Linked DNA regions of Homo sapiens: region 2 is linked to region 1. Evidence: fine-mapped expression QTL. Tissue or cell type: monocytes after muramyl dipeptide. Region 1 holds a variant in brackets; the other region holds the start of a gene. All regions are shown on one strand. Distances are from middle to middle.

Region 1 (2,684 bases):
TAGCAAACATTCACATGCACCCCCGAACCTAAAATAAAAGTTATAGGGCAAGTGCCGTGGCTCACGCCTGTAATCCCAGCACTTTGGGAGGCCAAGGCGGGCAGATCACAGGTCAGGAGTTCGAGACCAGCCTGGCCAACATGGTGAAACCCCTCTGTACTAAAAATAACAAAAATTAGCCAGGCATGGTGGCCGGCGCCTGTAGTCCCAGCTACTAGGGAGGCTGAGGCAGGAGAATCACTTGAACCCGGGAGGCGGAGGTTGCAGTGAGCTGAGACCGCGCCACTGCACTCCAGCCTAGGCAAAAGAGTGAAACTCCATCTCAAAAAAAAAAAAAAGTTATAAAAAGCAGGGGGATCCCAGTCAAGCCCTGGGCCAAGGCTTTCCAGAGGTGGTGATGGTTGTGCAGAAACCTGGAAGATAATTGGCTTAGGGGATGGGGGGCCTTCCTGGCCAAGGAGTAACATGTGTATAGGTACAGAGGCCTCTGGAACATTTGAGGAAGCGAAAGAAGGCCAGGGTGGTGAAGCCCGGGACCTGTACACCAAGAGCAAAGGGAAGTCAGGTGGACTCAAAATCCTCCCAGGAATTCCTCTCCGCAGGACTCAGTGCTATCTTAAGAGCAGAGCCCCTGGCCTCCCATCTCCTCCCCCACTATTCCAGGTGGTTTCTTAGAATGGCCTCTCACCACCACCCGCAGCCTCACCCAGCAGATCTGGTCAGGTCTGGTCAGCACACACATTCGCTCTTCTTCTCAGCTAGGGCCCAGGGGCTAAGCAGGAGCTGGGGCTGAGCCCCTGAGGTCTTTTCACACTAAGACTGGACCCTCCAGCCCCTGACAGGGCTCACCCCAGGGCTCCCCAACAAATTCAGGAGAGCAATGATACAAGAATGCCTCTTCTTTGATTTTGTTCTTGTCCTTTACTTCTCCCAAATTATTGCCCCTAGCAATGCCTAGAAAACAGGACAGGGTGCCGGGTGCCGGTGGCTCACTCCTGCAATCCCAGCAGTTTGGGAGGCCAAGGTTGGGGCTTGGAGATGGAGATTGCTTGAGCCCAGGAGTTCCTGACCAACCTAGGCAACACGGCAAGACCTCATCTCTACAACAACAACGACAAAAATTAGCTGGGCATGGTGGCACACGCCTGTGGTCCTAGCTACTCAGGAGACTGAGGTGCGAGGATCGCTTGAACCCAGGAGATCGATCCTCCTGCAGTGAGCCGTGATCATACCACTGCACTCCAGCCTGGGTGACAGAATGAGACCCTGCCTCAAAAAAAAAAAAAAAAAAAAAGAGAGAGAAAAGAAAAGAGCAAAAGAGGAAAATGTACACCATTAATACACCATTAAAAAAATCCCTCCTAGGCCTTTGATGACACTGTTTCACTAATTTTTTTT[G/T]TTTGTTTGTTTGTTTCTAAAACAGAGTCTTGCTCTGTCTCCCAGGCTGGAGTACAGTGGCGCAATCTCAGCTCACTACAACCTCCGCCTCCTGGATTCAAGTGATTCTCCTGCCTCAGCCTCCTGAGTAGCTGGAACTACAGACACATGCCACTGCGCTCGGCTAATTTCTTTTCATTAATGTTGACACAGTTAAGATGACAGAGTCTGTCTACTTCAGCACTTATTGTAATAAGATAGTAGGACAACTTTTCTAAGAGCTTTGCTTTCTTTTCTTTTTTTTTCTTTTTTCTTTTTTTTTTTTTTTTTGATACGGAGTTTCCCTCTTGTTACCCAGGTTGGGGTACAATGGCACGATCTCGGCTCACTGCAACCTCTGCCTCCCAGGTTCAAGTGATTTTCCTGCCTCGGCCTCCCGAGTAGCTGGGATTACAGGCATGCACCACCACGTCTGGCTAATTTTGTATTTTTAATGGAGACAGGGTTTCTCCACGTTGGTCAGGCTGATCTCGAACTCCTGACCTCAGGTGATCCGTCTACCTCAGCCTCCCAAAGTACTGGGATTACGGGCGTGAGCTACCCTGCCCAGCCCCTTTTTTTTTTTTAAGAGAGCCATTACTTGGGTAGTTTGGGGTCTGCGAAGTGCTAAAAATACTAGAAAATTACCTGAATATTTTTGTCAGGCCAACATTTTTGTCTTGGGTACAAGGAGGGTGGGAAGTTTGCCAGACTGCTCATAAGCCTTCTATTAAGATGTTTCCCTAAGAACCTGTCACCATGCAGAGGGGAATACCCCATACAAGCAGCAGGTCTCCATCTCCCCAACCAAATGCCTTCCATTCCCTTCTTCCACGACGCACGAAACAGATAAGGCATGAAATCAAAGCTCTCTTTCCAGAACCGGCTCTCCAAGTGGGTGATCCATTCCTGCATGCAATCTTGTCCTTTTGCCTGTTTAACTGTGAAACTATTCTTGAAAGTATTCCAAAGTGGCTTTAGGGAATATTCATATCTTGACTGTTTTTCACTTCAATAAAAAGTTAAGGCAAACTTGGCCCATTCCGGGGAGCTGGAATCCAGAGGGGAGGGAGATGAGGTCCCAGTGCTCCTTCTGGCTGGGTTCTGCCGGATTTATAGGAGGGCCTCACACCCCTCACCCCTGATTTCAAGCAGGAGGGTAGCAGGCAGAGCTTGGGAAGCCTCACCCGGACCCTGCCACCTGCCAGGAAGGTCAGGGCCCTGCTCCCCTGCCTGTGCCCACTGCTGGGAGCAGGCTGGACCCAGTG
Region 2 (2,684 bases), 650 kb before region 1:
TCTCCATTTTCAAGTGAGATGTAATAATATGCGTCCTGTTTACCTCTCAGCCTGTGATGAGAATCTAATGATTAGGGTGTGCTAGCACACAGGCACCTGTAAATCCCATTGAAATCTGAGGGCCCTATAACTCCTCTAGTGATTCCCAAGCCTCGTGCACCCCACCCTCTCTGTTCATCCTTACTTCCCACGTGTCCCGTTAGCCCTCCGGATGCAGTCAGGCCCATTTCCCCCAGGACGCCCGGCACTAAGCCGCCCCATCCAGCTGGGGTCTGAGGGGCCTGTCTCTTGCCCCACGCCTAAAAGACCTAACCCTCCTCCTATCCCTTCGATACGGCAGTCTTTATTTGCTGGAGTCTGCACAACATCACTGCCCAATGATGTGTCTGCTTCCACGATTCCCAAAGAGACTGAGCTTACTGAGACCAGGGCAAGGACCGCGCCAGTTCCTCATCGCCCCCTTCCTCTGCCTTCCCCTCCCTTCCCCCTCACCGCAGCCATGGCGCCCAGACCAAGAAAGCAGAGCAGAGGTTCCGCAATTCTTTTCTAAGATTGTCTGACTAGAGGGTTCAAAGCCCTCTAATCCAAGGCCGGCTTGTGTCTCTAGGGAGGTTGCAGAAAGGCGCCAGAATGTGGATGGCGCGGACAATGTGGGATACTGGAGTCTCGACTGCCGCGCGCCAAGGAAGGGCGTCACCTAGCCAAGCCGGCCCTGGAGTTGAGTGCCCCGCAGCCCGCCGGTCCACCCGCCCGGCCGCTTGCTGGCACCCTGGTGGCCGCGCCGGCTTTGTGTCGGCATCAGGTGCAAACCCCCAGAGCGCCGGGCGTGCGCGCACGCGCCCCGGAGCGCGCGGAGCCCATTCGTTGCCCCCACCGGGATCTCCTCTAGGATCTCCTCCGGCGCCCGGGGCCGGAGAGTGGGGGAGGGAGGAGGTCGGACACGTAGCCTGCCTCGCAGCAGGGCTCGACTCCACGCGGGAGGGCGGGGGAGCCGGGGACCCGCCGCTCCAGCCCGCTGGCCTTCGAAAGATCCTCCTGGGCCAATGGCAGGCGGGGCGACGCGACCGGATTGGTGCAGGCGCTCTGCTGATCGCTGTGGAAACTCGGGCGGCGGGGAACGCGGGAGGATGTGGAACCCGAGGCGGGGGGAGCCGGAGGGGCGGGCAGAGGAGGTGTCGAGGCCCTGAGCTCCCGGGGAGTTTTTACTGGAGGCAAAAGTCCATAGCGGGAGGGCTGAGGGAGGGGCGGAGGAAGGGGACCGCTTGGGGGCACTGGGAAGCCAGGGATCCTCCGCCAGGAAGGCAGGGACACTCCCGAGCGCAGGCGAGAAGGCTGGGGGAGGGGGCGCGGTGGGAGGAGTAGGAGAAGACAAAAGCCGAAAGCGAAGAGGGCCCGGGCTGCACACACCGGCTGGGAGGCAGCCGTCTGTGCAGCGAGCAGCCGGCGCGGGGAGGCCGCAGTGCACGGGGCGTCACAGTCGGCAGGCAGCATGGGGAAGGGAGGGAACCAGGGCGAGGGGGCCGCCGAGCGCGAGGTGTCGGTGCCCACCTTCAGCTGGGAGGAGATTCAGAAGCATAACCTGCGCACCGACAGGTGGCTGGTCATTGACCGCAAGGTTTACAACATCACCAAATGGTCCATCCAGCACCCGGGGGGCCAGCGGGTCATCGGGCACTACGCTGGAGAAGATGCAACGGTAAGGGTCTGGGGGCGCCCCAGCCACCCTTCTCTGCTGCAGGCGGAGTCAGGATCCCTGGCTCCCCGTGGGCCAAACAGACCTCCGGCGCTGAATGGAGCTTGGGACGTCCTGTAGGGAAGGAAAGTGCATCTATTGCACTCGTACCCCCTCCCCAATCCTCCTCCTCCTCTGGGCCGACTGGGGTGGAGACCGGATCTGGGACCCGGGGAGGCGGCGCTGCGGTGAAAGTCCCAGCGGTGGAGAACAGGGCAAGCATCTACCGCGCGCGCCGGGACCCACGCGTCCTCCCCTTCCTCGGGGTTTGTCTGGAGGCAGGGACTCCCCAAGAGGGGCGCTCGGGCCAGACGGCTTTGGCGCCCCCAGCGGGGAAGATGGCCGCCCCTGCGCGCCGCTGAAAGGAGCGGGAGCGCAGGCAGCCAGGTGTGGGACTCCGCGCTTGTCCCGCACTCTCCATCCAGACTGGGTGGCGAGAAGGAAAGCTCGTCCCCGGCCGGAGATCGCTCCTGCTGGGACTCTTGTCTAAGAAGTTCCTCAATGGCCACCTGGGAAAAACCGCCCAGCAGCTCGGGTTCCCACGCTCCAGGGATTATCTAGACTCACCCCAAGCTCGAGCCGGCCTTCTTGGGGACCGGCGTCCGGGATTGGTGGAAGGAGAACGGCCTGGGGTTTGCAAAGCCCAGGTCGAGTGAGGCCTTGAGCCGGTGGATTTAGCAGCACTAGACTGGCTTGGCAACAGGTCCGTCTGCACTCGAGGTTACTCTCGGGCGTTCAACTCAATGGCTCTCTCTTTTTAAATCCTGCCAAGAACACCCTTCCCTCATCTTGCACTCCTAAAGGTTGTGGGCCTCTCTGGAGCCATTGCTGCCCACCTTACCCCCACCAAATGCGTGGCTCAGTGATTACCCCGCACCAGCTACCCGCACCGGGGACCCCAGTCTGAAATCCTGGCATTTATTTAAGGATGCAGCTGGTATCCCATGGATTC

The links. PIP is the estimated chance that this variant, and not a neighbour inherited with it, causes the effect. A credible set is the group of variants that fine-mapping cannot tell apart.
Region 2: it holds the start of FADS2, and the variant in region 1 is the best candidate, but not a certain one, in a credible set for the expression of FADS2 in monocytes after muramyl dipeptide (Kim-Hellmuth 2017, PIP 0.74).

Annotation. Positions count from the first base shown.
Region 1 is chr11:62,477,478-62,480,161 of GRCh38, forward strand. It overlaps a transcript of AHNAK not described here. Among named protein-coding and RNA genes, the nearest start is that of SCGB1A1, 60 kb to the left of the region's middle. The variant G/T (reference allele first, on the strand shown) is at 1,399.
Region 2 is chr11:61,826,902-61,829,585 of GRCh38, forward strand. FADS2 (fatty acid desaturase 2) reads left to right here and starts at 1,399. Exons shown (of 12, transcript NM_004265.4): 1 at 1,399-1,696. The coding sequence starts at 1,490. RefSeq lists enhancers at 1-415, 416-1,093 and silencers at 685-1,124, 1,245-1,344, 1,365-1,464.